Linked DNA regions of Homo sapiens: all the other regions are linked to region 5. Evidence: fine-mapped expression QTL. A gene starts in region 5. Each other region holds a variant in brackets. All regions are shown on one strand. Distances are from middle to middle.

Evidence for each region.
Region 1: its variant is fine-mapped to the expression of SLC38A1 in whole blood (INTERVAL, PIP 0.99).
Region 2: its variant is fine-mapped to the expression of SLC38A1 in whole blood (TOPMed, PIP above 0.99).
Region 3: its variant is fine-mapped to the expression of SLC38A1 in whole blood (INTERVAL, PIP 0.97).
Region 4: its variant is fine-mapped to the expression of SLC38A1 in monocytes after LPS (Fairfax 2014, PIP 0.94).

The regions. Positions count from the first base shown.
Region 1 is chr12:46,136,129-46,141,836 of GRCh38, reverse strand. No RefSeq gene overlaps it. Among named protein-coding and RNA genes, the nearest start is that of SLC38A1, 130 kb to the left of the region's middle. The variant T/C (reference allele first, on the strand shown) is at 2,690.
Region 2 is chr12:46,208,077-46,214,786 of GRCh38, reverse strand. It overlaps SLC38A1 (solute carrier family 38 member 1), which reads left to right. Exons shown (of 17, transcript NM_030674.4): 6 at 5,660-5,733. Among named protein-coding and RNA genes, the nearest start is that of SLC38A1, 58 kb to the left of the region's middle. The variant A/G (reference allele first, on the strand shown) is at 3,331.
Region 3 is chr12:46,179,714-46,186,423 of GRCh38, reverse strand. SLC38A1 (solute carrier family 38 member 1) reads left to right here. Exons shown (of 17, transcript NM_030674.4): 17 at 1-3,361. Among named protein-coding and RNA genes, the nearest start is that of SLC38A1, 86 kb to the left of the region's middle. The variant C/T (reference allele first, on the strand shown) is at 3,136.
Region 4 is chr12:46,198,381-46,205,090 of GRCh38, reverse strand. It overlaps SLC38A1 (solute carrier family 38 member 1), which reads left to right. Exons shown (of 17, transcript NM_030674.4): 10 at 501-559; 11 at 674-790; 12 at 2,002-2,081; 13 at 3,893-3,993; 14 at 6,348-6,466. Among named protein-coding and RNA genes, the nearest start is that of SLC38A1, 67 kb to the left of the region's middle. The variant G/A (reference allele first, on the strand shown) is at 3,190.
Region 5 is chr12:46,266,141-46,272,850 of GRCh38, reverse strand. It overlaps SLC38A1 (solute carrier family 38 member 1), which reads left to right and starts at 3,808. Exons shown (of 17, transcript NM_030674.4): 1 at 3,808-4,325. LOC105378248 (a long non-coding RNA gene) reads right to left here and starts at 3,780. Exons shown (of 2, transcript XR_001749101.1): 1 at 3,693-3,780. RefSeq lists silencers at 3,259-3,358, 3,439-3,618 and enhancers at 4,029-4,128, 4,179-4,228, 3,368-4,350, 4,349-4,408, 5,334-6,317.

The sequences.
Region 1 (5,708 bases), 130 kb after region 5:
TACAATAATATATAAATAGAAACAACAAAAGTTAAAAAGCAGAGTAATAAAGTGTAGAAATTTTATTAGTTTTTTTGCTTGTTTGTTTATGCAATCAGTGTTATCATCTGTTTAAAATAATAAGTTATAAGATATTATTTCCAAGCTCCCTGGTAACCTCAAATCAAAAAACATAAAACAGATAAACAAAAAAATAAAAAGCAGGAAATCAAAACATACCACCAGAGAAAGGAAGACAGGAAGAAAAGAAGGAAGAGAAGGCCAGAAATCAGCCAGAAAATAAATAACAAAATGGCAGGAATAAGTCCTAACTTATCAATAATATAATGTAATTATAATGAAAATGGACTAAAATCTCCAATTAAAAGTTATAGACTGGCTGAATGGGTTAAAAAAAACAACTCCTAATGATCTGTTGCATACAAAAAATGCACTTCATATATATAATCTGGAAATAAAGGGATGAAGAAAAGATAGTCCATGCAAATGGAAACCAAAAAAAAAAGAGCAGGAGTAGCTATGCTTGTATCACACAAAATAGATTTCAAGACAAAAACTGAAGAAACAGACAAAGAAGGTTATTATATAATGATGAAGGTATCAATGTAGCAAGAGTATATAAAATTGTAAGTATATATACACTCAACATTGAAGCACCTAGATATATAAAGCAAATATTATTAGAGTTAAACAGAGAGATAATCTTCGATACAATACTAGCTGGAGACTTTAACACCCCACTTTCAGCATTGGACAGATCATCCAGACAGAAAATCAACAAACATTGGACTTTATGTGTGCTATAGACCAAATGGACCTAATAGATATTAACAGAATATTTTATCCAAGGGCTGCAGAATACACATTTTTCTCCTGAGCACCTAGATCATTCTCAAGGATAGACCATATGTTGGGTCACAAAACAAGTCTTAAAACATTCAAAAAACCTTGATATAATATCAGGCATCTTCTTTGATTACAATGGAATAAAACTAGAAATCAATAACAAGAGAAATTCTGGAAACTATACAAACACATGGAAATTAAACAATATGATCTTTATTACCACTGGGTCAATTAAGAAATTAGGAAAGAAATTGAAGGACAAAAACCATATGATCTTTTCAGTTGATGCTGAAAAATCATTTGATAAAATTCAACATCCCTTCATGTAAAATTCCTCAAAAAACTGTGTATAGAAGTAATATACCTCAACATAATAAAAGCCATATATTACAGACCCACAGTAGTATCACACTGCATGGGGAAAAGCTGAAAGCCCTTCCTCTAAGATCTGGAACAAGACAAAAATACCCACTCTCACCATTGTTATTCAACATAGTACTGGAAGTCCTGGCTAGGGCAATCAGACAAGAGAAAGAAGTAAAGGGCATCAAAATTTGAAGGTAGAAGTTAAATTATCTTTGTTTGCAGAGGATATGATCTTATATTTCAAAAAACCTAAATACTCCACCAAAAAACTGTTAGACCTGAATCAGTAAAGTTGCAGGATACAAAGTCAACATACAAAAATCAGTAGCATTTCTATATGCCAACAATGAACAATCTGAAAAATAAATCAAGAAAGTAATCCCATTTTCAATGCTACAAATAAATTCAAATAACAGGAATGAACATAGAAGTGAAAGATCTCTGCAATTAAAACTGTAAAACACTGATGATAGAAAGTGAAGAGGACACCAAAAAATGGAAACATATTCCACGTTCATGGATTGGAAGAATCAATATTGTTAAAATGTTCATACTAACCAAAGCAATCTACAGATTCAATGCAATCCCTGTTAAAATACTAATGACATTGTTCACAGAAATAGAAAAAAAATCTTAAAATGTATATGAAATCACAAAAGACCCAGAATAGCCAAAGCTATCATGAGCAAAAAGAACAAAATTGGAGTAATCACATTACTTGACTTCAAATTATACTACAGAGGTATTGTAATCAAGACAGCATGGTACTGGCATAAAAACAGACATGGAACAGAATACAGAACCTAGAAACAAATCCACACATTTACAGTGAACTCATTTTCAACAAAGGTGCCAAGAACATACATTGGAGAAAAGACAGTCTCTTTAATAAACGGTGTTGGGAAAACTGGATATCCATATGCAGAAGAATGAAACTAGACCCCTATCTCTTGCCATATACAAAAATCAAACCCCAATAGATGAAAGACTTAAATCTAAGACATCAAACTGTAAACTACCAAAAGAAGACATTGGGAAAACTCTCCAGGACATTGGTCTGGGCAAAGATTTGTTTAGTAATACACCACAAGCACAGGCAACCAAAGTAAAAATGGACAGATGGGATTGCATCAAGCTAAAAAGTTTCTGCATCGCAAAGGAAACAATCAACAAAGTAAAGAGACAGCCCACAGAATGGGAGAAAATATTTGCAAACTATCCGTCTGGCAAGGGATTAATAACCAGAATCCATAAGGAGCTCAAACAACTCTAAAGAAACAAAATATAATAATCCAATTATAAAATGGGCAAAAGATCTGAACAGACATTTCTCAAAAGAAGACATACAATGGCAAACAGGTATATGAAAAAGTGTTCAACGTCATTGATCATGAGAGAAATGCAAATCAAAACCAAAATGAGGTATCATCTCACCCCATTTAAAATGGCTTTTATCTAAAAGACAGCAAATAACAAA[T/C]GCTGTCAAAGATGTGGAGAAAAGGGAACCCTTGTACACCATTGGTGGGAATGTAAAATAGCACAACCACTATGGAAAACAGTTTAGAGTGTCCTCAAAAAACTAAAAGTAGAGCTACTATATGATCCAGCAATTCCACTGCTAGGTATATACTCAAAAGAAAGAAACTTGGTACATCAGACAGATATCTGCACTCTCATGTTTACTGCAGCACTATTCACCATAGCCAAGATTTGGAAGCAACCTAAGTGTCCACCAACAGATGAACTGGTAAAGGAAATATGGTACACACACAATGGAGTACTATTCAGCCGTAAAAAAGAATGAGATCCTGTCATTTGCAACAACATAGATGAAACTGGAGATCATTATGTTAAGTGAAATAAGCCAGGCACAGAAAGACAAACTTCATATATTCTCACTTATTTGTGGGAGCTAAAAATTAAAGCAATTGAACACATAAATATAGAAAGGAGAATGATGATTACCAGAGCTGATAAGGATAATGGGGGAATGGGAAGTGGGGATGGTTAATGTGTACAAAAAAGTAGATAGAATGAATATGATCTAGTATTTGATAGCAGAACAGAGTGACTATAGTCAACGATAATTTATTATACATTTTACCATAAATAAAAGGGTAGAATTGGACTCTTTGGAACAGAAAGAAAGGATAAATGCTTGAGGTGATGGATACCCCATTTACCCTGATATAATCGTTACACATTGTGTGCCTGTATCAAAATACCTCATGTACCACATAAATACATATACTTACTATATACCCACAAAAGTTAAAAATTAAAAACTTTATTTAATAAAATTGTAGGTTTTCAATAGTCTGTCATCTTTGTATTGTCTGTGAAATGTCAATGTTCTAGTCAGAGCCCTTCCTACAAATGATTTTTCAAGTGAAGAAGACAGAGAGTCAAAGGAGGGTTAAGTTTAAAAAAGTAGAGTGTTCAAGGAGTCTGGAGAAGAAAGAGCATTACAGTGTGAGGAGACATCTGTGATTGTTGACTATAAGTGACCAACATGCAACTTTAATGCAAGTCATATGCAAACCAGAGTCTATTATTCCCAGTAAACAGCCTATTTAGGTGCTTTCTGTAACAGGACTGTTTCAGCATAACAGCCTTAGTAATCATAGTCTCTGCCAAAACTGTGGCCAATGTAATACTTTTTCAGTGGGACCTGGGGAATGATACATTATTTAAAATGAAGTCCATCAAACAAGCGAAAGACAAAATGCATTGATTTAAGTGATGTGTGGACTGGAGCCTGTGAACAGGGCAGGCAGTTCACACCAAAGCTGAGGTGCCCTGGTACTGTTGATTTGGGGGCCACACACGCAGGGTAACAAGCCTCCTCACAATGGTGTGACAGTGTTTCCTCACCCGAGTGCACACAGAGATGGGAGCACAGCAGTGACTACCCTGTCCCTGGCCTCCTGCTGGATTTGCCAACAATGGTAACACTTGGTACCAGCTGGAAGGCCCTGAGATGCTGAGAAGGGACCACCGCATTTCCTGTGGATGGGAAAATAATCTGCAGATGTCATTGGCCAATCACCACCAACCTAGACTGGATTTCAACATAATCTAGAGACCCCCTAAATCAGCCTTTCAAAGAGTGATACTTCTTACATAACGGCCATTCTTTGAACAGCATGTTTATTAAACAAATCTAATGTAAAGATCTGTTTCTCATTTGGCCTGATTGGACCTTCAGGAAAAGCCAGAGGATACATAAAGGCCTGAAATTATCTTAGGGCCCAAAAGAAAATACTCAACCTGCTTTGTACAAGGGATAATGTATCATAATTACAATTAAGAAAAATTTTAGACGATGCATTCTTTTAAACATTTCCACATGAAACTGGAAAATGAAGACAAAACTTTATTATGCTGTGGCTTGACAAAGAAAGAGTGGTTCTGTGTCTCTGCAGGGCTGCTGGATTAACAACCCCAACAGAACTGATGTCAATGCTTGTAAGCAGCTACCCAATTCAGCTAAACACTAAGTCATTTCAATCAAATGCTTTATCTGATTATCTCTTTTCAATGAATTAACTGATTGCTTGATGAAAATGCTCAAAAGGGTCTGATATTTTACTCTTGGGAGATATAAGAGTCTTTATTAACAGTTTTTTTTAACTGCTTGGCATATCTTTAAGGTATGTCTTTAGATAAAATATACTACCATGACCACCACCACTTCTCATAAAAGAATTCAAAAACTTTGCCACAATTTTACAATTGTTCAATTCAACAGCATTATGGAGCTAAATGCCTGGCACTGTAGGATCAACATCTGATTTAAGTAAATGATAAGAAAGGGAATTAAAATAAAATATATTGCAGGGAAAACCATTCCCTTCCACAATTCAACATTTTTTATAGTGACACATAAAATAGAAGCTTTTGCCTTTTCTGGGTGTTGGAAAGAAGAGCTTTTTCTTTCCCTCCCATCCCTGTCATCATACCTGCCCAAGAGAAATGAAATGACCTACTCAATTAATGAACTGGGATTATGAGGCATGAACTGGGGGTACAGAGCACAGCCTCTGTGGGGTGCAGGGCACAGCCTCTGTCTCTCTGTATCTTTCAGTCCCTGTCATTCAGAATGGCCTGAACCAGAACAAACACATTCTCTGCTCCAACATGCAGGAAGTGGCCTTCCCCTGGGAGGGAGATTCAGCATGCGAAGGTCCAGCCCTGCCAGTGTCCACATGGGTGAACTCTGTTCAGGGACAAGAAATCAGGAAGCTTGTCTAGCCACAGATAGATGTTGTGATGTCTAATCACGTTTATTAGTAACTGAGATATTGATCTTCTATCTTTCAGTTTATTCCCAACTCAGAAGGGTGAGGGCATTATTTATTGCCTCTCCCAGAGAATCTAACACATTTATACTCTAATGGTCTATTTGACCATTTAATATGTTGTTTCCTCATTTGACTTTCTAAATTTGGCACATTAATCCTGAATACAGGAATAGGAAAACCTTGTATGTCTAT
Region 2 (6,710 bases), 58 kb after region 5:
GGATGTCATATGATTTGTTGCTGTGTAGCTAGGCTTTTAAAATATAGTCTTATCTCCCTTAAAGTGTCCTGAGGTTGGTTTTTGTTTGTTGGTTGTTTTTTTGTTTGTTTGTTTTGGGGTATACTTTATATACAATAAAATTCTCCAATTTAAAGGGTGAGGTTTGTTAAATTTACCCAAATACAGTTGTGAAATCACCACCACAATCATGGTATAGAACATTTCAATCACATTAAATGTTTTGGTTTTATTTGTTGTCACAGCTTTCCACTTTATTAGCATATGGTACTTTTAAATATGAAAATAATAACATTATTCATATAATCTTTGGGTAAATTATGGAAGACCAAATAATTACAATTCTGTTAATATGATTCAAAACATTGACAAATAACGTTTTTCAAATCGATGTTTAGATGTTCGTTGTTTAAAAGATGAGTCAAAATTTTCTTGCAGCAAAAAGAGTAAATATATCTAGGACCACTGTGACAAATCTTTTTCATTTTTTCTTTTTTTGCTCATGCCACTTTGTCTAAGATACTCTCAGGAATCTGTTTAAAAATCATGGAAAGCAAGAGTATCCCCAGAGGATTAGAAATAGGCTAATTTAATCCCAACTTTCAAAAATGGCAAAAAGTAGATGCCAAGGAATAGTGTAGAGAAAATTATTAAACAGCTTGTTTATGTGCAATGACTGCAGAAAAGATTACTCTGTAGAAACCAACAAAGTTTTTCTAAATAGTCACTAAACTAATATCATCTTTTGAGATACAGTGAGCTAAGTAGATCATGGGACTATCTTCATAGAGGGAGTCTTGATTTTAGTTAAGATATTTGGCATAGTCTCACATAACTTGCCAATGAGGTTCTAATGTTTCTAAATTCACTGATTCTCAGCGAAGACTCTGTTATGTGTGTGTTTGATGTTGAAGGTAAATAGGTAAATAGTTGAATTAAACTGTCGTTGTCTGTCTTACAGTCTAGTGATGGAGACACATAATAAAGCAATAAAATAAAAAGATTACTCTGGCTGCTGGGTGGAAGACGGATGTGAGGAGACAAGATGATCACAGTTATCCAGAAATTAAGGACGATGGCTCACACTAGAGTGGAGATGGGAACAAAATGCCTATGGATTTGGGATAAATTTTGGAGATAGAAATGATAGGGCACTTGCCAATGAACTAGATATAAAGGATGAGGGAATGGGTGAGAGATAAGGTCGACTTCCAGGCTTCAAGCAGTTGGCTGGACAATGGGCCATTTCCAGATGGTCTTGTTCTATTCAAGGTTGATGCCAGTGACTTGGATGAAGGTACACTTAAGATATGAAGTTAGATGCAGTGGTTGATATATAAGTAAAAAGGATCAACAATTTAAGAAGAGATCATGAGACTTGAAAGATAAAATGTAATGTAAATAAATATAGGACTGGCACTTAGCTTCAGAAACAGACAAAAAAAGTACACAAGATAGAATCAGGAAGACAGCCTAGTAGCATTCACACCAGAAGCTCAAAAAGAATGAAAAGTGTGTGGTTGCCGTAAAAATGAATTCCAAAATAGATTACCTTGAAAGAAGAAAGATGTCTGACTCAGAGAAATTAAAAATCCTATCATGCTTTGCGCTGTTTGGACCAAATCTGATGTTATAGCATTGTGTTCATCTCAGCACACAGCCTTTAAAAAGGATGGTTGAGGAACTGGACCATGACTGAGATGTAAACAGCCCAAACACTTCATCACAAGATGAACAGTTCAAAGAATTAAAGATGTTTGAGTTAAAGAGCACAATCTTAAAATGAGCACCCTCAGGACTGTTAGGTAGGAGAGGTGTTAGATTTCAAGTAGATACAAATAGGTCCAGAAGGTAAAATGAGGACCCAAGGATAGAAGTAGCGACAGTGATTTCAGCTGAGCCTCAGTTCCAAGCACAGAACTTTTCAGAAACAGAATGGGTTGCATAATATGTCCCCTTTTAAAAGACACTTTGCAGACCTGGATGCCTGTGTGTTGGCATGGAGCATAGAGGTTTCCTGTCCTGGGTAAACATGCTGTGCTGGACTAGGTTCTCTCTGAAAGTCTCTCCCTGCTTCAGGAGTCTAGAATTCTAAGTTTCTTCTCAGGAGACTCCAAAATTTACTAGAATGTCCTGAACCACATCTTTCATAATGTTGCTGACTCAAAGACTCTTGAAGGCTCCTGACCACATTATTCGCAATTCTAACTCTCTTGCCACCCCTTCCCCATGACCCATGTACAATTACATGCTCTAGATCTTCTCCTCAAAGATGAACATAAGTCTGAAATATCAACACCTTGGCAGCCCTATTATCAATTGCTGATCTGTAGTCCCCATGTAAGTACGCCTTTTTTAGCAACCAGTTTTTGTCCCAGCCATATTAATACTTGTGGTCAGTGGTTAACAATGTTGAAGCTTAAATTATATCCAGATGAAATTTTAAAAAGGAATCACTTGTGTTCCTCTGTGTTAACACAGGAATCCCAGCATGTGTTTCTCTTCCAGGAAACCATAATTATATGTACAAATATCTACCCGGACAATTAGGGGCATAATCATGCTCTAAATAGAAGTGTTCAAACAAGTCAACACCTTCTCTCCAGTTATTCCTCTTTCTTCTTTCTCTTAGATGTCATGGTTTCTGTGTCTCAAGACATTTATGATTTGATTTTTCTAACCCTTTCTAGGTTCTATTAGAGTCAATTAGACAACATATTCCTTCTTTCTAAGAATCTGAACAAGGAGGTATACTTTTCTAAATTTTAATCCTATTAATGCCAGATTCTTGTATAGGCTAAAGTATTCTTAGAATTTTACTTTTACAGTTTGCCTCTTAGTGATCTGATAGAAAAGGGGGTTTTGCTTTATATTAATTTTCAGTCTTGGAAGAGAAGATCTACATTTGGGAAAGGACTAAGAAGAGATCCTTTGCAGATCAGACAGTTAAAGGCAAAAACTATCAGACTCTAAGTACTCTGGGGTGCAATGTTACGTCTCTTAAACATGGGAGGGGGTTGTTTTCACCACTGTGGGAGCACCTCATTCTGTTGTGTTTAAGTGGGGGGAAGAAGATAAGTGAACACTACTAAAATCTTCCCTAATCAACACTTTTCTCCGGCTTGAAAAGGGGGGATAGCAGTTTATGATGCTCAAAGGGCCAGATGCCACTGAGCATCATCTGCAAAGAGATTCAACACATAGATTGTGTTAAGACACAACCATGTGCAAGAACCGCGTGGTTGCAGAGGCTACTGACTGAGGGAACACAGCAAATGTTTCCTTAGAATGTTTCTTTTGCTAATAAATACC[A/G]AGTTCTCCAGGGTTAGGGCCTTTTGTAAATAATTGTGTAGATATTCATAATTATCCCCTCCTGCTAGGCACATAGATAGTTCCTACAAGGTCATACTCTTTATACATTAGCCTTGGGCCCATGGGAAAATCCCTTTGGTCCTAGCAGAGTAGACCCAACAGGGCACATAGTCATTCCAGAATAGCATCTGGCTCATCCTAAGATGTCACTCATTTTACTCCACTAGGAAGCCTGTGCTCTTCTGTGCCACACGGAAATCCTCTAGGGCCTGTCACATGTTCGTGTAGAAGTGGCTACTTAGCATTGTGTCCCTCAAAACAAGTGAACTCTGCAAGAAACCGAAAGCTTGCTTCTTTGACATAAATATTGCTTATCTTACTTGACGGGAAAAAAAATCATGCCACAATTAGGTCCCATATCTTATTCTGTGGCAGAGCATATCAAATCCTGTTCCATTACGTATCTCAGAACTACTGGGTTGGCTAATAAATGCTTGCTGTCCGTTTCTCACATCCCTCAACCTGAAGAGATAAGAGACCTACCCTCTTAATCAGTGTATTAGTCCATTTTCATGCTCCTGATAAAGACATTCCTGAGACTGGGTAATTTATAAAGAAAAAGAGGTTTAACAGACTCACAGTTCCACGTGGCTGGGGAGGCCTCACAATTATGGCGGAAGGCGAACAACACATTTTACTTGCCCGCAGACAAGAGAGAATTGAGAGACAAGTGAAAGGGGTTTCCCCTTATAAAAAAACCATCAGATCTTATGAGACTTATTCACTACCACAAGAACAGTATGAGAGAACTGCCCCCATGATTCAATTATCTCCCACCGGGTCCCTCCCAAAACACGTGGAAATTATGGGAGTTACAATTCAAGGTGAGATTTCGGTGGGGACACAGCCAAACCATATCAATCAGCCTCCTCACTCAAGGATTTTAGGGAAATAAGTATAGATCTGAATGTACTTCCTTACCAATCATATCTTAACCTAAATTCCTGTTTATTGGCAGATCAGTTGGGCCTCTACCCAAAGTGTTAGGTCTGTTCTTTCTCCTAGTGTTTGTTTTGCCTCTGCTGAGCTCTGCCCCTCTTTTGTTTGCTGGCCAGTTTCTGGCAGTTCATCTGTTCTGCTGTTGACCATTCTGTACTCCTGGTTTATCTCCTCATGGTTGCCCCGTATGCAGGAGAAACAAAACACTGTAGGATCATAGACAGCTGAGGAGCAGTCATTCTGCCTGGGGCCAGGGAAGGCAACTGAGGAGTTGGCATCTGAGCTGGGGCCTAGAGCAGCCTTCAACAGGTGTGCTGGGAGGGGGAAGGGCCAGGAGGAAGCAGCCCACGCAGAGCGAACGGCATGATGTGCCAAGTGCCTCTCAACAGCACTTGGTGGAAAAATAATTGCCTTTCATGACTCAAACATAGAGTCAATTGCAGTTATGTATTGTTCTAGGGATATATTTTCCCACATCAGGAAGTGAGCGGTTTCATCTGGGGACTGGATTTTTTTTCTTCTTTTTTAATAAATAGGCTTTATTTTCAATTATCATGTCTGTTTTAACCAAATGTTTCAGAAATCATCTATATAATCTCCCACATCATTTTAACTGCACTTTTTCTTGAGAAGGGTGTGATAATGACCCAGATGTACTAAAACAAAAACATGAGTTCATCATTCAAAAAAGTCTTTTCATTATACTTGATTGTCAAATTTTCCCACTGGTTACCAAGTGGTGCTTATTCATCTAAGAGGAACCAGGTGCAAAAAAAGTGAATTACATTAGTAGCCCAATATATAGATTTTAAAATAGCCATGAAGTAATAGATGAAAAGAACCCTAGACATCATTTGGCTTGTATCTTTATATTATGGGCAAGGAATCCAGAGATGGGAATGTTAAGCAAGTTGCCCAAAGTCAGGTGGTCATTCTCCTAAGGTCACTGCCAGCCTTTCCCTCCGCCCCTCCCACCCCATTCTCACACTTTCTCACCCGGATGTAACAGAGAGTGCAACATAGACTACAAAAGCCTTCTTTCATAATGTTGTTTTAAAGTCATCTCAACCGAAATGCTCCCAGAGAGCTATTTGGGCTTCGAATTACATAAAGGATTTGAACTGTTACTCAGATTCTAATGAGCACTTCTTTATTTGGTAGGACATTTTTGTTGAGGATTTTAAAGCAGGGATGACTAATAGGTTCCAAAATTTGGATACTATTAACAAATAGTGTTAACCATACAAATAAACCTTTGCCCTTCTAAACTGTAATGCCAGAATATATTCTTTTCTAGATATTACAATAAGATTTATTTTCTTTGCTTTAGGGTACTTTTGACTTCAGTGACATTGCTGTCTATATATTCAATAAACCTCCTATTGATCTGTTCAAAAGAAACAGGTAAGCTGAGGACGTGTTTGATTTTGTTAAAACCAGGGTGAATTATTTTTATGGTAGCATTGTGGAACAATGATGTTCTCTCTGTACAGCAATTTGATTATTAAAAAGAAAGACTATTTTGACCTAGAGTGATTGGAAGACCTATAGTAGTATTTATCTAGAGAAACAGTTGCAGCAAAATATAAATTAAATTGTCATGGACAATGAGAAAATAATGTTGTCACTTAAAGTGAACCCTCAATTATACCTGTTTTTCTGGTTTAAAATGACTTCATTTTAAAAGCTTGTTTTTCCTTAGGTCTTTATAAATCCAGAACAAAGATCCCATGTTTTTATATTATAACTTCCAAGGTTTTAAAAGTAAACAGACCTGTCATTCTCTTGTGCATATTCCAAGGAGAAAGTGTTACTCCTGAGGCAATGTGGGAGTGAGCAAGCTATGAAGAGACTTCAAGTACTCTGGGCAGTGTAATACCTGAAGTGTTTATTTTCTATTTCTGGGACACTGGATTATGTTTGTAATTCTTTGACTTTTACATTAACTAAAACCACATTGGTCAACTATTATTGTATATACATGACTCCATTTAACTGGAACATTTTATAATAAATTGAGGAGCTAACCATTGTCTAGTTTAAACACCAGTCTTATGAGAGATTAAACAAAGGTTTAATTATAGCCTGTCCCATATTGCTCTCCGTGAACCTTTTGAAAACATGAACTGAACAGTTATAAAGAAATATAAACACTTTTTAAAAAGTGAATGCTTTAGAGTTTCAGTATTTATTGAGATGAGCTAGTCGAACACTTTCAAATTTTGCTACAGACAAATTATGCTTTTGACAGATTAGTCTTCTGCTCTCTTTTGTGAGTTGCATGTATTTGAACTACATTTTATGAATAATTAGGTTTTGTATGTCGTGGCTATTAAAATGTTTCTAAGCTTGTTATTACATTTAGAACGTGGAGGCATTGA
Region 3 (6,710 bases), 86 kb after region 5:
CTAAATTAGTAGATTAAAGAATACTATACCCTAGGCATGGGGAGCAGCACGTTTTCCTTTGGTAGGTAGGATCTCTATACTAGTGAACAGTGCCAGTTCCACACTTTGGACTTAGAACTGTTCTCTAGTTATTGTAACACAGAATACTGTCAATCCCTAATTTACTTAATGTTACTTATTGGAAGTGGGGCTGATGAAATACGCACAGGAGGGAAATCTACTGTGTTTAGGCACAGGCAGCCCCAGTGTATAAGGAGATCATATTCCAAAAGGTTGTCAGTTGGTTGTTTGCAACCTGGAATGTATTTTCCTTTAGAGACCAGGTTATCCATGGTGGTTAGGCCCCTAGAGCAGCTGGAAAAGATGATCAAACCAATAGGTTAGCTGACATCGAATAATGTAATAGGTTTGCTAAAGAATCTAACCATCAAATATAATATTGTTTCCAGGGAGGGTGTTTGTTCAGAGTTGCCTGTTAGTAGAATCTGGACTGTCCATCCCAGCCACATCCCACCTACTGGACAGTAGGGGTAGAGATGCCACCAGACTACAGGTGACCAGATTGGCCTGAAACATGGTGTCCAGTAAAAACGGGGAGGAATAAGTCCATGACTGCTGGAGAGCTTGGTGGTAGGAGGAGGGTGAAGGAGGGTGAGGGGGCCTCTCATGGGTCAGAAACCTCCAGGGACATCCCTCAGCTGGTAACTCTGCTGTTGTCCGGAGGGTTCAGGCTTGGTGTGCCTTCTTCTGTTTGTCTGACTTTTGGCTCCTATGGTTCATCTCCTGCCCTGCCCACCACAGAAAAGGATGCTGCTGCATAGCTTCTCCAATGTACCAGTCATTGAGGCCAGCGCGCAGCACTTTTAATGTTTTTAGTGCTAGTAACTGTGTTTTAACTCTCCAGGAATAAGCTGGGAGGTTAGAAAACAAGAAAAAAGGGGGAAAAAAAAACCTCTCCACCCACTTTCCTTTTTTACAGTTACAGACCCTGTTGAGAAAAAGAAGCACCCAGATGGGTGATGGTGATAGGGCTTGTGGTGGACACAGGGTTGTGGTAAGATTCCTCAGTGCTTCGGCGAGCACCTAAGACTATTACCCTGGAACTGACTGCTTTCTAGAGCTTGATTCATGCCTCTAAGCCAGTGGTTCTCAAAGTGTGGCCCCTAGACCAGTAGCATCAGCATCATCGGGGACCTCATTAGAATGCAGATTCTCAGCCCCCTCCCAGACATGGTGAAGTCAGAAGCTCTCAGGGAGGGACTCAGCAAATGATTCTAAAGCGCATCAAGTTTGAGAACCACCCTAAGCCAATGAGTCTCCCTTTTACTTCCCATTAGTCCTCCCTCACCAGATGATTCCTAGGACTCATGGTGCAACATACAGGAGCCAGGCTTTAGGGAGGGGAGGAAAGGAGCCTGGCGGCAGGGGTCTCTGCAATGGCAAGAAAGTGAGTGAATCCAGCGCTGCCACCTGGTTATCCCCTTCTCGTTGAAAATAGCAGCGCAGGTGCAAATTCCTAAACACAGGCTGCCTGCACTCGGTGTTACCTCGGGCTGAGGCATGATAATATTTTATTTTTTAAAGCTGTGAGGAAATGAAAGTGAGGCTTTGGTTGGGGCGAGGCAGTTGTGAAAGAAATTAAAATAAAAGACCCTTTGTAAATGCAGACTTAGAAGAAATACTGAATTTGTGTCAGAAGTTCTCCAGTGTTTGTGTTAATCGTGTGGTGATAATCCTGTCCTCCTTTTAAAGCGAATTCTCTACTGAAAGGTCTGCTCTGCTTAAGGAGCTACAAACTGCTCTCAAAAGAATGAAATACTGAGTTCCAATTCAGTGAGGCACAGTGTTGGACTATGGCACATTTAGTTGGAGTCGGGGGGAGGTCAGGAATATGATCAGATAATGGATTTTATACCTTAGAGCAAAATCTATTAGTCTCTCTCAGTTTATCAATTTAAATGGCTTTAGGCTTATAGGGGGTGTAAACTTTAAGAATATAATTCTCCCATTCAAGTTTACAGCAAACATCTAGCCACCTTCAAAACAAAGAATATACAGACCATCATTTAGCAATACTAATACATGATTTTCCTTGGGGATGGCAGGTTTGAGAATCCTTTAGCAACAGGACATACTTCCCCTAAATTACAGTGAATTATTTATAACGAGATAAAGCTTTCAGGTACAAGCTGAAGGTGGGGTGTCTAACAACTAAAAACTATCACTAAATCTCAAAGAGAAAGTTCTTGCAAAATATGTAAAGTTCACAAGGTGCAGACATTTTCCTTCTTTAGGCTTTTATCTAAGGAAGGGCTATGAAACTGGGCCCATCTGTATACAGGCTCAAATTTACGTTTTTAAAGGAAGAATCTATGCAGCTGAGGCTTATTGCAGGAAATACTTCATTTGTATGTAAATATTATTGTAAATAAATAGGAGGCTGTATATTTTTGAAGTTGTTGATCTGCACTGAAATAGAAGTCTCTAGGATCTGCATATAAACAATAAATGTTTCCTAGAAATTAGTGGTTTTGTTTGGGAATTAGAAAAATTTACATTCTCTCCCAGGTAACATAGTTCTCTCAATGTAAACTTGGAACCTGAAACCCTACTTAATTTAGAGAAAGAAATGTCTGAGAAATAGTTCCCTTGATTTCTTATGCTGGCATTAAGATCAATTATTTAACAGATAGTCCTCTGAGATACAAGTAAGGAATATTTAGACACAAATCCTTGTCCTATAGAAACAGATATACCCAAATGACAAATTGTTTCTTCATAATGATCTTCCATTTTTAACACTGATACCACTACACAGTACATATGAAAACAGAAGCTGGGGAGAAGAATGTTTTTTTCACAATTGAATTGCTGCATTTCTCAAACTTTGGGATCTATGAAAGCGGGGAGAGGGAACCTGAATATTAATTATGAGCACAAATTTGAAGGAAAGAAAACAAAGAACCATTATCTAATCAAGCTTTGAAAGTCCTGCATGTTTGCCTTTTATTTTAGTGTTGACGCCAACATAGACTGTCTAAGGTATTTTTTTCCCCAAACACTTGAATCTTGGTCGTTGGTATGTAATCCACTCTCTAGAGTCCAGTGTACTTTAGACTTCATCTGAGTCCAATA[C/T]ATGTACCACACTACTGTTTTATTAATGTAAAAACCTTGTAAATGAATTTCAGATGGGTGATTTAAGTGAGTCACAAGTCACAAAACTTTGCTATTCATAGTTAATCAAATAGAACTGGGTTTTTTTTTTCAGAGTGTGGTGTAAATAAAGAAATATAAGAAGTTCTGTTCTATAACTGCTCTGTTAACATAGTTTTTAAACATTAAAAAATGTGAACTAAAAGTATTTAAAAATGTTGTGTTTGTTCTTTTGCAATGCAATACTAAAATGGGGCAGTTGTGTACTATATACACTATTCAGGATTGCTGGAGAAGGGTTATACATATTTGTCAGTGTTCTAGATCATAGAAGGTTATATATTTAAGCACCCTAACGTAAATATTTTTAAAAATACTTCTGATAGAAATCTATCTGGTCTGAAACATATACCACATTTCTCCATTCTTCATAATCAGAGTAGATTCACCATAATATTTTCTTTTTTAAGTCAAGTTTACCTTTATAAGTATTAATTTCTGCCCTGTGTTGTAGGAAGGAGTTGAGTCTTCCTCTACCCACATTGCTGCCACCTATAAAAGAAGAAATTCTATCAACACTTCATTTCTCAGTAACTATTGGGTCAAAGCTAGTGCAGCCTTGTCTTTTTATCCATCACCAACTCCTCTCCAGCATCTTAGAAAGGCTTTACCAGACCAGCAAGATGGCCAAAGTCTGATATCCAAGTTCTTCTTGTGGACAGGGCTAGCACAGGAATAGCCTGGGTCTTTTACGGTGTGGCTGGGAATGAAGACCCCCTTGATGAACTCTTCTGGCCTACCCAGGTGACAGCAGTGCATTCTGTAGGGCCTCGGTGGCACACACGCAAAACTCAAAGTAGAAACCTGGGGTACGGGAGTCCAAGTCATGTTCTCCAATATAACTTCGTTAGGAATAAAGCTGATATTTTTATCCTTACATGCTTCCTATGCCTACTTCTTAATTGATCAAAACCCCAAGGGCAAAGGGTGTGAGTGAGTAATTAGCACTTTTAAACTCAAGCAGTGGTAAAAGTTAAAAGACTATTGAGAATCTGAGCAGATTTTGTTCCAAATTGAAAGGGCCAGTCCTGCAGTGCCTTTGATAGTTCTGGCTTCTTCCTTCTACTCTCCCTCCATGAGTATTTGCTAATACTGTTCCATTCCGTCCTTTTTTACACAGAATTGTCAGGGAAGAGCTATTCTCTGCCTTTCCCATGGAATTAACTATGGGCTTGTATTAGGGCTCTCCAGAGGGACAGAATTAATAGGATATATGTATATATGAAAGAGAGTTTATTAGGGAGAGTTGGCTCACATGATCACAAGGCGAAGTCTCACAATAGGCCGTCTGCAAACTGGGGAAGAAAGAAGCCAGTAGTGGCTCAGTCCGAGTCCAAAAGCCTCAAAAGTAGGTAAGCTGACAGTGCAGCCTTCAGTCTGTGGCCAAAGGCCAGAGAGCCCCCAACAAACCCCTGGTGTAAGTCCCAGAGTCCAAAAGCCAAAGAACCTAGAGTCTGATGTCCAAAGGCAGGAGGAATAGAAGGAAGCACCCAGCATGGGAGAAAGATGAACACCAGAAGACTCAGCAAGCCAGCTTAGCCCGTCTTCTTCCACCTGCTTTGTTCTAGCCATGCTGGCAGCTTATTGGATGGTGCCCACCCCCATTGAGGATGGGTCTTCCTCTCCCAGTCCACTGACTCAAATGTCAATCTCCTCTGGCAACCCCCTTGCAGATGCACCCAGAAACAATACTTTACCAGCTATCTAGGCATCCTTCAGTCCAATCAAGTTGACACCTAATATTAACCATCACGGGGCTTAATGATAACTTTGCAACTCAGATGTCCTGTTTTCTTACTTTCTAGATTTATAATTGTGTTCTACCTAGTTTGGAAAGGGTGGATGAGGCCCAAATAACTAGGCCAATTTTTGAATATCAATTTTTAAAAATCTTTTATTAGTTTACATGTTAGGCTAATCCAAGTTGGTAGAATAATCTGCTCATTGGGAGAGTCAGTACACCACCAAAATAACCTGACAAATTACCCAAATTATATAAAGCCATAGCACTTAGAATTGAACTGGGTACAAATAAATAAATAGATCATAATAGTGAATGCATAAATGATCCAAAAAATACCAGAAAGGTGGCCTTTCAAATCAATGGGGAAAAATAAAGGTTACTTAATAAATGATAGGAAAAAATACATAGTTTTTGAAGAAAATGAAACCAGATTTCTATATTACCCCTTATGTCTAAAGAGAACTTAGATATATTAAAGACTTTAAATAACACATGTGTAAATATATCTATTTTTATAAGCATGAAACCATGACTTAAATAAAGTATGTGTCAAAAAATTTAGTTAGCTTATTAATTAAGGAACAAGTAATATGTTTAAAAATTGGTCCAAAGGAGAACTCAAAGAACAGATACATATATCAGCAATCAGGAATTCTAAAATGAATTTGCTAATAGATGCAAAACTGGCCTGTCCACAGGGGGAAATTAATTGCATCTTTTTTTTTAATGTACTTTAAGTTTTAGGGTACATGTGCACAATGTGCAGGTTAGTTACATATGTATACATGTGACATGCTGGTGCGCTGCACCCACTAACTCGTCATCTAATTAATTGCATCTTAATCAGACAGAATTATTTTGTATGTCTGGACAATAATCATTTCCATCTCTCAGTTTTCTACAATTTAGAGGGTTATAAAGTAGCTCAAAAAACAAAAAAAGGGGGTGCGAGGCAAAACTCTTATAGAATCAGATAACCCAGAAGCAGCATATAATATTTCGTTGAAAGTACACCCACCCAGTAATCTTTTTTGCTTCTTTTAAAGTCTTTCCAGTTTCCGTAACAACTTCCCCTTTGTGACTATAAAAATCTCAAAGATTATTCTTGGTCATAAAAAGAATGGTCCCATTAGCCTTGGCCTGATTATTTGCATGGGTGCGGCAAGGGTGTTAATTAACCACATAAGCTTCCTTGAATTTGGTTTGCAATTCTAGAGCTATGTACTATTGAACAGCTACTGGAGCCACAGAACTGCACTTTTAAAAGTCTCTATGGGTTGAGGGGGAAAAAGTCTCCATCATTTGCTAGCTCAGGGCTAGGAAAGCAAGCCCGAGAGACTCCACCGTATTCACCTATACCATCTATAGATTTGGATGAATTCCTTTCTACTTGAGGTCGCTTAAATTTACTAAGGTTCATGGCCTGCCAGGAAGTGCTCTTTGTCACCACCCATCATAATAGGATCCTATAGACCAGTTTAGGTACTAGGCTCTAGGTTACAACCCTAGAAGGTTGGTACTAAGCCAGGGTTTTGTAGGCATTGGCTACAGAAATAAAATTAACCTTTGTTCCTTGGAGTTGTTTGACATACCTGTTAAATGACCATCATCCTCACATATGATCTTCCAAGTAAGGCCATGGTGACATTCAATTTTGTCCAGTTATGCACCGGGAAAGAAAAAGACTCTTGTTGAACCTATGCAAATAACTACATTGCTGTCAAAAAGGTAACTCAGTCACAGTGTTTAAACT
Region 4 (6,710 bases), 68 kb after region 5:
CAATTTACCACTAGAAATTCGCTTCATCTACTCTCTGTCATCTGGGGAGAAAAGTATTATAACTGACATTCAGTATGCACACAATAAGTGCATAATAAAGAGCTATTGAGGGGATCAAGGAGTAAATGGGTTTGCCCATAGGACTCCATCAGGGTCCACCAACACAGACTTACAGCAAAAATTGGAAGGCTCTTTTCTGCTGGATTCTGGGAATCTGTGTTCTCTAGTGTGCCAGGGAGAGTTGGAATCAAAACACGTAATATAATGTTTCTATTCAGAGCCCCATTTTTTTGCCAAATAAAGTAGCACTGTCAAATAATAAATCTTGTATTCACTTGGGCATGTATGTTTATTATTGGATCTCTAAAATATGCTTCAAATAATGCACTGAAATAAGTGAGGTGATGAATTTTGAAATAATAACAGTTTATGATGGGTAGCTCCAAAATTTTTAAAAATGGAAAAAAATGAAATAATTTATTTTTTACTTTTTTTTAAAGGGTATCTTGGCTATACTAGTGGATTTTCCTTGAGCTGTATGGTTTTTTTCCTAATTGTGGTAAGTGCTGATTGCAATGGTTGGTTTGGTTTTGTGATAGTACAATGGCATGTAATAATTATTCATTGGCTTTACTAAAGTCCATATTGCTTCTACTATACTTCTTAATACCAGGTTATTTACAAGAAATTTCAAATTCCCTGCATTGTTCCAGAGCTAAATTCAACAATAAGTGCTAATTCAACAAATGCTGACACGTGTACGCCAAAATATGTTACCTTCAATTCAAAGGTAAGTTTCCTGATCCTTTGCAGATGAAACAAGCATTTTTATTAAGGACATTCTATTTCTCATGCTTGTAATTGCACTGGTTTGAATGTATTAGTTCTCAAAAGAACACATGATACCATTGCTTCCAGATTACACATCTATGTAGAGATCCTTGAGAAATATACAAATATTATATTTTACACTCTCTCTTACCATTAAGCATTCTCTGTGAAAATCCCATTCTGGATAATTGTCTCAGCTTTTTCTGTGTAGAGTGCTAGGTGATACTTCAAAAACAGACTAACAACATCCTTAGCTCCCTTCTTCTGGCGATGACAGAAAGGAATACTGCAGACTTCCTCAGGTTGCACAGTTGAAATATAGATGCCACCACAAACTGGCACTTAAAAAACTCTCATACTATTAAAATATTGTTGATACAATGGGAAACAGAGGATTATGGAGTCAGTCAGGCTTGGATTTGAATCCTCAGGCAAGTCACCCAACCCCTTGAGTAAAAATAAGTATTCTATTCTGTATCTTACAAGGTTTTGTTAGAATGTGCCTGGCATAGTGCATCAGCAGAGTTAGGGCATAAGATAGGTTAGTTTTCACTTCTTTTTGCATAGGAAGTTAGATTGAGTGTGAGAGTTTCAAAGAGCCTTATCTAAGAAAACTAAATAGATCGCGATCTTTCTCCTTCTCTCTGATTGTAAGGATATAGCCAAAGTAGTGCAATATGGAACAGATTTTCTTTTCAGAGGGTATCTTTTAAGTCCGATTCCATGCACCTGATGTAGAGCGAAGAGCAGTAAACTAGAGGTGGGAGTGCTGGGCCAGTCGCCTGACCTGTTGGAGGGAGCCAGGAGAACAGCCACAGTCTGCCTACTGCTTGGGATTGCTGTGGGGACCCAGCGAGCTATCCTAGGAAGAGTGCCATGTAACTGGCTCATGCTGTATAAACAGGGGGTGTTGTATACCTGGAGTATATAAAATACACCATAGGTGAGCCAAATCCGAAGTCCCTCTGTGACAAGTGGCTAATGGCTCGAGCTAGACAAGCTGTCTTAGAAAAGCTGCTTCTACTTTAGAGATCAAAACCTCCCTAATAACCGAATAATCCAGGGATTCTGAAGAGCTGTCAGATAAAAAGACAGCTCAGAAATACTGGAGCTATGTCCTTTTTATGGTAAAAGTGTTTTTCCTAATGTCTATTCTTTTCTCTCAAATAGACCGTGTATGCTTTACCCACCATTGCATTTGCATTTGTTTGCCACCCGTCAGTCCTGCCAATTTACAGTGAGCTTAAAGAGTAAGAAATTTGTTTAATTTTTTATCTTAATCGTTTTACATCCCCTCATTAATAGGCAAGTATGCAATTAAAATAAACGGACTTGTCTAATGAACGTCAGCGGATTCATCACCCAGCTTCAACATTTACTCACATTGTGCCATTCTTAAACAAGCATTGTATTTTAAGAAACAAGAAAGCAAGAAAAATCAGAAACTTGCAGTATTTTGGGGGGCCATAAACATAAAAAGTAGCCAACCATGTGGGCTTTTTCATTAATTTGGTTTTTCAAATATTGTATCACCGAGGAAAGTTTAAGTATTTGTGTTGCTTTCCATTACGTATGCGTATTTTGCAAGTGGGTGATAATCTTCAGATTTATCTGTAAACTGCTAAATACATCGTCTCTGATTTGCCTGTGGGTTTGGGTGAAAAGGCTAGTAAATCAGACAATAAGAAATCAATATTAAGACCACAAACTAGGAAAAGAGAATATTGCTGTTCATTTTTAACTATTAAGAAAATTCTATGGATTTATTGATTTATTTTTGATTGCTGGTTTTGAGAAAATTAAGGCCTGCTTATAAACTTCTTCATGTCTCTTTTTAGCCTATGGTTATCAAACATAAACAAAAATAGTCACAATAGCGTATCTTAAAAACTTAGAAAAGATCGACAATATCAGTATTTATTTCCAGTTTGAAACAAAGTTGATGTCATTTAGCATTGAATCCACTCATATATCTTTGGCGTCTTTTAATAGTTCAGCTTTTAGTTTTAGTTTTTAATTTTCTCAAGCGTATACTTCTCAATTTTTCTTTATTTATTTTTTTTTTTTTGAGACAGAGTCTCCCTCTGTCACCCAGGCTGTAGTGCTATGGTGTGATCTCAGCTCACTGCAGTCTCAACTTCCCAGGGTCAAGCAATCCTCCCACCTCAGCCTCTCAGGTAGCTGGAACTACAGGCACATGCCCCATGCCCAGCTAACTTTTGTATTTTCTGTAGACACAGAGTTTCACCATGTTGCCCAGGCTGGTCTTGAACTCCTGAGCTCAGGTGATCTGCCTGCCTCAGCCTCCCAAAGTGCTGGGATTATAGGCGTGAGCCACCGCGCGGGGCCTACTTCTCC[G/A]TTTTTCTTGTTTTCCATACTTCTATGGCATCCTAGATTCCTTGACATAACCAAATGTTATGACTATCTGTGGTCTGTTATTTATTGAATACAAGTGTTGCAGATTAATTGTTTGGGCAGTTAAAGAAACTTAGAGGGTCATCCCAACCCCAGAGTGAACTTGACCTGAGAGATGGAGCCCTTCATCATTCCAGCTGTGATCTCTTGGGCACTTGCTGCGCTGGAGACCTACAGACTTCCAGGTGCATCCCTGAGGCCACCCAATGGGAAAATCAGAACCTGAAACAGCAGCTTTAGAGACAGAACACCTGAGGTCAAGTTCCAGCTCTGCCACTAATCTCTGGAGCTAGGAGAACAGCATTGATTTTTTTCTGCCTTTTTTCCTTTGCCCAGCTAGTGTGGAGATAATATCAAGCACAAATATTAAAAAAATGCTGTCTGCCCTTCCGATGAGAACTCGATATTCTTTTAAAAGAATGGGGAAGAACGCTAACGGGAGTGTAGTTCCACAGATCTCACCCTCAATACCAATTCAGTATAAGAGAGGTTATTTTCAACTGGCATAACTGCCAGGGGTAATTTCAGCTGTTCAGATCTTCCCTAACCTGACAGAAGCAAAGTTAAATTAGTATTCTTCAATGTTAACACTGGTGCTTAAATTCAGTCATATGATTTTTAATTTTTAACATTTATTTGTTTTTAGCCGATCACAGAAAAAAATGCAGATGGTTTCAAACATCTCCTTTTTCGCCATGTTTGTTATGTACTTCTTGACTGCCATTTTTGGCTACTTGACATTCTATGGTAAGTAATTTCTACTGGTACATAAATATAAATATTTGTAAACAAATTAGTAAAAATTAGTGTTGAAATAACTTTTAACATGAAAGGCAAAGAAAGCAACAAAGCTATCCATTGGTTTTTCTAGTTTTTTCTTCGACTTAAAGCAATGGTGATCTTTTCATGTTCATGCAGACTGCCGAATAAAATAATTACTCAAACAATATTTATAATTTTTTTCTCCTAACAGTGTCCTTAATAGAAATTGCATTTTAGAAGCATGCTACCTTTACTGAGGAAGGTTTAAAACTACATCAGAGAAGGCTTTCCTAATTGACACCGCAAATTGGGTCAGATTCCATTAATAGAATGGAGAGACAGAGACAGATGCTGAAAGTGAGAAAGAGCAGAGTGCTACACTCATGACACTCTGAGTTAATTAAAAATGAAACTTCTAATTGTTCACTGGAAGTCGAAGCCTTGCAAAGATCCAAAGGAATGATAGAAAATTTTAAAAAATGAAATCTGAAAAAGGGAACAAGTTTTCATATGTAACTTTTACTGACCCTGAATGAACAGTTTACCGGCGTTTACTGCTTCTTCATCCTCTCCTATTCAAATTATCCTGAAGCTTGATTTAATATCTTTCATTATCTTTATAATTGGGGACCTAATTTAAATATATATATGTGTATATATATGTGTGTCTATATATATGTGTATATATATGTGTGTGTATATATATATATATGTATGTATTTCACAATCTTCTCTACTAAATAATAATTCTTTGGGACTTTTTTTCATAAACACAAATGTCTCAAAATTAAACACATTTAAAAAGTATTAATTCAGCCTGGAGAAAAAGGCTACTCTGATTATACAGATATTATTATTGTTTTCACTAGCAATAGAGAATGGCATTGTCTAATGAATTCATAAATACCACATTTAATTTTTACATAAAAATGGTGTTGCTAAGGTGCATACAGAGTTGTACAGGGAGAGAGAGGCGGAGAACTTAATGTTAGTTGAAGTCTCACTGTTGTCTTGTTGAAGCTATAATTTTTCTTTGTAGATGCATTATTTTTCACATAGAATAGAACACCAAACACTTTTATTACTCTTGGATTAAAGAAAAAGGATTAGCTATTTTTTAAGTGGTTAGTTATTTTGAATTAAGGAAATTAGAACTAGTGAGATTGGTATTATAACTTATGGTTCTTTTTTGGAAACTGAGACCAAGCTAAGCTCTATGGTACAGATTAGCATTTGAATTCCATGCTGAGGACCTTGAGACTGGTGCAGTGAGAGGCCCTTGCAGGAGACAGGAGGGGAAATTACCTCTTGTCAAAAGAGTGAGCAGTTCCATACTCTATGTGACTGCCATTCTAGCTTTGTTAGTCTTTGAAATAACACTTTCTGAAGTTCTGGATTGAGAAAAAGTTCAAAGTAGTACATAAGGCCAGGTACGGTGGCTTGCACCTGTGATCCCAGCATTTTGGGAGGCCAAGGTAGGTGGATAGCTTGAGCCCAGGAGTTCGAGACCAGCCTGGGCAACATAATGAGACCCCCATCTCTACAAAAAAAAAAAAAATACAAAAATTAGCCAAGCATGGTGGCACATGCCTGTAGTCCCAGCTACTCAGGAGGCTGAGGCAGGAGGATTGCTTGTGCCCATGAAGCAGAGGTTGCAGTGAGCCAAAATGGCACTATGGCAACCATATTCCAGCCTGGGTGATAGAGCAAAACCCTGTCTCAACACACACACACACACACACACACACACACACACACACACACACACACACACAAAGTAGTACATAAACTAATTTTTTTTTTTTTACAAGAACAACATACATGAAAGAGTGGAATTATTTCCTGATGGTGAAATTTCAACTAGTGTCTCTGCTGCTTGGCCACTTGAAGTTGACTTAACAAGAGAAGAGTTTGAAACAAGCTCCAAGGTGGCTTGTAGCTCTCCCCACCCCACCCCCTCCCTGAGCAAGCCTGTGGCAGTTTGGTGTGGTTTGAAGAGTGGAGGGAAAGTCTAGATTAAGAGCAGCTTCGCGTTTCAACTGTATGTTTCATTCTCGAGCCCAGTGTACTCCTAGGTTTAATTTAGTCTAAATTAAGCATTCCCACTCCATGTAGCTTCTTCCAGTGATTACTTTAAATTTCTTTGCTAAGTCGCGTATGCACAGTGGAGCATGTCTTACATAGAGATTTTTCTTTCCAACCTGATTGTTTTAATAGACATTTCGAAACATTGCTTTTCTTGCCCTTTAGTTTACAGATTCTTTGTTTTTCAGAAAAACTGTCATTCAGCTATATACTTTGTCTCCTTTTAAAACCCTCTTGCTTTTCCCTCATTTTAGACAACGTGCAGTCCGACCTCCTTCACAAATATCAGAGTAAAGATGACATTCTCATCCTGACAGTGCGGCTGGCTGTCATTGTTGCTGTGATCCTCACAGTGCCGGTGTTATTTTTCACGGTGAGTAAGGGCCTCTGTGCAATATGAGAAAAGCTGAGGTCTCGGCTTTCCTTCTGCCTGCAGGAGCCCGTTGCAGAGAAAGCCTGCCCCAGGTAACTTTCCTGGGTTATTGAATCTGCATCTGGGAAAGATCCCAAGACTCGGTTCAGGCTCTTTGAAAAGCAAGTGGCATTCAGTGCGTCAGGGAGCCTCTGATGCAGTGAATCTCCATTCTAATTAATCTGACCCTGTTCTTTCCAAAGAA
Region 5 (6,710 bases):
ATAAAAGATAGTTTTGTTCTGGGATTTTAATTTAACTTCAGTTTAGAATCAGTGGGGGTATTTGACCTCTTGCAAGAACCAATTTTCAATCTGGTGAGGTAGAATGTTCATTTCAATGGTGGAAGAGGCAACAACTGCCCCTGACACAGTGCTACCCACCAAGGAATGTTAGGGCACACAGTGCCATGTATCTGCAGAAGGCTGACCAACACAATTTGGGAGCTCTTTTAATTGCAAATGCGCTTTTTCCTATGGCTGCTTTACTAATTTCTAGTGTCAAAATATTGTCATCTATGGATGAGATTCAAAGAACATCAAGGATGATAAAAAGGGTTAATCAGGCAAAGAAATGTGAAAGTCAAGGAAAACCAGTAATCTTAAAGACCATTTGTTGTTTAGGGTAGACCCTATAAATAGGAACAAAAGACTGCAGAATAAACAATTTATTTTCTAGTGAGATTGGATTTGTTCATCTAACAGCTGCAGTGTTTTCTGTTACAAGTAGGAGATATGCAGGACACTTGTTCTGAGATAATCTCACCAGCTGACTTTCCTACTTTTTCATCATCGTTAAAAATCAGATTTTCCACTGATAGTCCTTCACAGATTTTTAAAAAACACTGTATTCAGAAAATAGTTTTGATCTTATTACCCAAAAATTCTTATACAAGAAGACTGCTGGTATCAAACCAGATGTATTTGGAAAGCTTTGAACACCAGTGCAGGAAAACACATATTCTCTGTAAGCGCACAGCTGGTAGTGGCCCCTTCTGCAGCTGTCCTACTGGGCAACCCAGGTAGGGAGCAAGTGCAACCCGGGTGAGTACAGGGTGAAGCTGGGATGAGAGCAGATGTGGCTTAAGCTCAGGCTGAATCCTCTTTGGGGTATAATTGATTTTTCTTCACAAAGCTGCCCCACCTTCCTGGAACCATACAAAAACAAGCTATGGGGGCTACAAGAAAACTCTCAGGTGACCTAAAGCTACCCAATTCTATTTTCATAGTACAAATTCCTTCCCTGGCATCACTTTCAGAGCAGATACAGAATTTTCTCAGTTCCATAGGGCAGTCTGCAGTCAAACCTGGTAATGTGTCCTGAATACCTTAATAACATTGGAAATCTGTTCAAATGGGAAAGGTCCACAAATAACATTAGATACTATCGACAAGTCTCTTGGACCTCACAACCCTATTACTGAGAAAACTAACTCCCTGGACTCTACTGAAATAGGGCAGTGGTTCCTATTCAGAGACAGAGTGGCCCGAGACCCCTTCCACCCACTAACCCTCCAAAGATGGTTATTCCAGAATCAGGGAACGTTTTAGATCCAGCCACAGAAAACTGGCTTACCAGTCAGCTCTGGATGCAAGATTTGGATGTGCCACTTAGGGCTGTGTGGACTTGGGATAAATTCCCTAACCTTTGAGTCAGGGATTAGGATAGGCTGCCCTATCAGGAATGTCATGAGAATTAAACGAGAGACCATCTGTGAAGTGTTTAACCTGCTGTTTGTCTCTCAGTAAGCACACAGTGAATAGAGGAATCATCTAGACATCCCTGGCCTCAATTTGAGAAAACAGCAGCCTCCATGTTGATGTTTACTCTGGTTCTAGGTTGTCAACTAAAATCCAGAGAAGGGGTGAAGATCCTTCTAACTCTAGGCCCAAGAATGTCTGATTGCAAATGGTTGTAGCACCACTGTGAAGACTGAGCACGGATTTTGAATTCAGACCTGAAAGGGAATCGCTTCCCCTTCACTAATTACTGTCTTAGGTGAACATGGCCAATTCAACTTTGTACTTGTTTTCTTAAAGAGGATAATACCCAACTGAGGGATTGAAAGCTTTAAATGAGATATTTACATGTAAAGTCCTTAGCACAATAGCTGCCATATCATAGGAGCTCAGTTCATAACTGTTGATTCCAATTCAAAAAGTGCTAAATAACTGCAGTCGTTTTGATATACAGAAACTAGCAAGTAAGTTAAAATTGGAACCAAAAGACAAGCTTGGTTCAGATAATCTCCAAACAGCGATGAATACACATTCTGCCTTTAATAAGGTAAATATTCCAACAGGCCTATTAAGCTATGGCTCACAGTTCATCTACTTTACCTATTCAGATTTCTTACCTTATTGATAAGAATTATTTGTGCCAGGCAAGGTGCACACTACTTAAAATCATTAATTTCACAATAAATTAGCTTCCTCTAGTAAGGTAGAAAGAACCAACTTTTTGATGACCTATAGAATATTGCTATGTTGTGTGTACTCTTCTCCCCTTTTTCACAAATTTAGAAAACAGGATTAGGACAAAAGTAAAGCAGATGAGGGAAGCAGTAAGTGTCAGAGGAAGAAATTGAATGCAGGTCTGTCTGAGCTAGGCTGCCCATGTGTTTGCCCTTTTGGTTTGCTCTGAACTTTCTGTTTTTCAGTATTTCTCAAGAGCATGCCTTCTAAATAGGATTCTCAGGAAGCCACTGTTGAACTAATAAAGGCCATTTACTGCCATTCGAAGGGAATAAGAAGTTTAGTCCGTGATGAGTTTCAAATTTGGTTATCATCTTGCTTTTCCAGTGGTGATGAAAAAGCAAAATTCACCCAAATACAATGACTACTGTCTACTTGAAACGCTCCAGGTAGTTAATTTTTGAATTATGATTCACCTTCCCTTTCCTGTTTTGATGAACCATGAACAGGAGACTGAACCTTCCCTATCAATAAAAAGCTCGCGTTTCCACCCTGCAAATTCGCGCTATGACAGTCTAATTGGCTGAGGCGCAGGTGGGATTTCCTGTCGCCATTTTAAGACACAACTCCTCTGCAAGCAAGTGCCCAGCCAGTGAAAGGGGGCTGTGTCTGAAACAAAGAGTAAGCGGGAAAAAAGGGAACCAGGCCCAGTTGCCCCTGCTCCCCTCCATGCCGCTCCCTCGTCCCCCGGACTTGGAGCGCCCCAGCTCCGTTAACCTGGACGCACCAGGTCCTTCGGTCGGGACCACGTGGGGTCTCCAGGCCCTCCAAGAGCTGGCCCCCGGCTCTTTGCGCCTAGGCCGGTGCTTTCTCGGTGCTCAGCAAATCCTTCTGGTTCACCTCACACCCAGTCCCCAAAGCAGAGCTCCACAGGGCAGATCTCAGGAAGGGCTGACCAGGTCTGCGGGTGCTGGATCCGGAAGAGGGGAGGTGCCTCCCGCTTCAGGTTAGGGACAAAGGGTTTTTAAAGGTGCCCGAGCTCCCCGCCGCCCCTGCCACTTCGGTCCCCTTCCCGCCAACCCGGGCCATCTGCAGGCTGTGCCCAGGGCCAGCCCTCCGCTCCAACGCTGCCCGTAGTCCCAGGCGCTGCCCGCGGCTCTCCGGGCTGCGCTCGGACCTGCCACTCCCGCGGCCATCCTCATGCTGCGCCCTTCCCACAATGCAACTCCCTCGCTCCTTCGGCCCCGGCGGGGCTCTGGCGTACCCAAAATGCAGGCCCCAGCGGAACGCACAGCCCTCCTGTCCTCCGCCGGTGCCCCTTTAGCCGCCCCACCCCCATCCCTAAGGGCTCTCATTCTCCAGCTGCAGCCGCAGCTGGGTTCCGAACACGCCGCCGGGCCCCGGGAGGGAGAGGGGCAGGTGCCAGGGCGGCGCGCAGCCTCTGCTCCCGGTGCCAGCTTCAGTGCGCCGGGCACACGCGCGCCCCGCAACCCCTCCCTCACCCTTTCCCCGTTGCTCAATCTCCGCCAGCCGCGGTCGCTGCATCGTCAGAGAGCTGCAAGAGGGAGGCAGCAAGGTGCGGCCGCCAGCAGTGACACCATGTGACCGGCACGGCTCACTGACACGCAGCTTTGGTTAAAGAGCGGGCGCACAGGAGGGGAGGAGACCGCGCGCGGGACGGGGAGGAATGGCCTGTCCGCGTTAAACCATCACAAGCCATGGTTGCGGAAGGGCCACGCGTCCCCCAGTAGGAGAATGACTCCGATTCGTGACCCTCAGCGCCGGTGCATGTCGATGTAAGTGCGAGGCCGGCGAGCAGAGTGTGAGTGGGGGTTGGTGGTGAGGGGAGATTCTGATGCAATCGGCCCGGAAAGGAGGAGAGCCAGGCGAGCGCGGACTGGGGCGGCCACGCCACTCCGCCAGAAGGTCGCCAGGAGCCTCCGCCCTTCACCTTCCTCCGAAATCCGCCAGGCCACGCCAAGCTCCCTGCCCAACCCTTACTGACGGGGGCCACATTTTCCCGGCCTCCGCAGCCAGACCTTGACACAAAGGACATCAAACTGCCGAGGGTAAAAACCCCGGAAGGGCGGACACCTCCACATCGCCTTTTGCCACCTTTCCCTTTATTTCCGGAGGTAAGGTGATTATCCGTTCCCGGGGAGGGCTGGGCGAGCGGCAAGGGGAGATTTAGATGTCGGAGGAGGAGGTAACGTAGAAATCATCTCTGCGGGCGTGAAAGCAGAGAGAGCTCGGCTGTGCCCGATGCTTTCGGATGTTGCTTTTAGGAGAGGAAAAGTCCAGGTCTCCTGTGCTTCCCGAACGCACGCGGCAGCGGGAGGAAGCGCCAGGGCCCCCGAGTTCACCTTTGCGTGGGCTGTGGCTTACTTTTTGGTTTGTTTTCCTGTGACTTTGGTGTGTTTTCCTGTGGCTGTGGCAGAGTGTGGTACCAGATCTGGTTCCATTTTTACGAGAGCCAGGAACCACGCACGTCTGGAGGGAGAGCGCAGCTGACCCGAGGGCGCGACCGTGTTCTGGGAGTGTTTGAATCCCCGGCCTTTGGTGAAAATTTCCTGTGTCCGCAAGGCCCAGAGGAGATCGTGTGATGTCCGGGGGGTGCTGCGTGCGGCCGGCTGGGTAGCGGCCGCGGACCACCACTAAACCGGGGCATGTTTGCCGTCCTTCCTGGTGCTCTGCCCCTCTGTAACGCGGGGAAGTAGGAGGGCGCGGGGAGAAATTACTAAAGGATGCTTGCAGTGACTCACTGTCCTTTCCTGCCCTGAAGAGGATTTTCTAAAATGCAGAGGGTGGCAGGGGACAGAGGTAGTGTTTTTTCGAGAGCCGGGATGTGCTGGAGCCAGCGAACAAAAGGCCACCTCTTGCGCGGTCTTGGGCGCAGACTGCTCTCGCTTCCAGTCCCACCTCCTCCCCAACCCCCGGCACCTAGTTCGCGTCCCTAAACGTTGCCGCAGAGGCCTTTAAACGCGTGGGTCGGTGCCGGGAGGAGAGCGCATCTTCGCCCTTGTGCGAGCCCCTTGCCCCCTAAATTATCCACCTCCTGGCGCATGGGGCTCCCCAGCACCCACTGGGACCCAGTAGGTTACCCGGCTGCCTGGGCACCGTTTGCCTGCCAAATCGCCCGCCTGAGGTTTGTGCTGAACTGTAGTTAGAGAAGGCACAAGTGCATATGGCAGCAAAAGGAATTTCGCGGTACCCGCGTCACGCCGCTCCCAGTGCCTTTCACAGGCTGCCTTGGGCTGGGGAAGGTGGTGCTACAATTCAGAGTCCTTTGTCTTGCTCTGCGGCGCGGACCCGGGGTTTGTACAAACCCTCGTTCTCTGTTAGAAACCTAACTGCCGCCAGGATCACGTACTTTCTCGGACGAATCCGCGGTGATGTGTGTAGCAAAAGTGAAAAAAGACGCCTCTGCTAGAAAACGGTATTTATTTGCGTTTGGAAGGGGTTTTGACCTCTCTGCAGTGGGTTTTTACATTTTTCAATATAAGGGGGAGGAGGAAAATAAATTTATGGTTTGCAGAATGCAGGGCCCAGCGAGGGTGTAATTTGTCACCTTGATAAAAGAAACTGTGCAGCAACTCGTGCTTTTTCTGACGTCAGAAGGACAACGGAAATAAAACCTGAGCTCGGTGCATGGCTGGCCTCGTTGTCAAATGTCTCATGCCAATTTGGTACTCCCGAAATCTTGCAAAACAGCCAATTCCGGGGTACTGACCTGGTGTGGACCCCCTGGATTTTGGTTCGACCCCAGCCTCAAAATGGCCTTTCTCTTGAGAGTCACTCGATTTCTCAGTATGTCGCTGTAAGCAATTGGAAACTGGAATAGTTTGGTTTGAGGTCTTAATCTTGAGGTTTATTCGCTTTTTAAAAAAATGTGGCCAATAAACATTTTCTACAGAGGGCTTACTGTGCGACTGGCAGCAACTAACAAGATTTGTTTCACCTTCTATGAAGCTTCCGTTCTCAGGGGGAAATAGACTATATAAATGTAGGCATATACATTTCAGGTATTCTTAGTGCAATGAAGAAATAAAACAGGATCATGTGATGGGGGAGGATGCTTGAAATAGAGTGACTCACCGGGAGGGGCGGTGTGAGGGTATAACATTTGTCCTCAGACCCGAATGATGAAAAGGGATCAGCTATTTCCATAATTGAGGGAAGAAGGCCAGCGGAAGGAACAGGAAGAAGGAACAGCAAGTACTTATTGCACTCTTCTTTGACTGTAATATAATTGAACAGATAGATGAATAGATTTTAAAGGTGTTTTGGAGCTTTAAACCTATATGTATGTTGTTTATGTATATTTTTTATGATGCTTCATGAATTAAGGCCATTTAATGAAAGGAGCACCATGTTTCTGATATCTGACTATTGCTACTCTTTTCTTTACTCTGGGTGATGCTTGTGGACAAAAACCGATTTTACTCATTGTTCCTCTAATGTCCAGCACATAGTACCTGCTTAATAAATACTTGTTGGATCGAGACCTTGAGACCTTGATC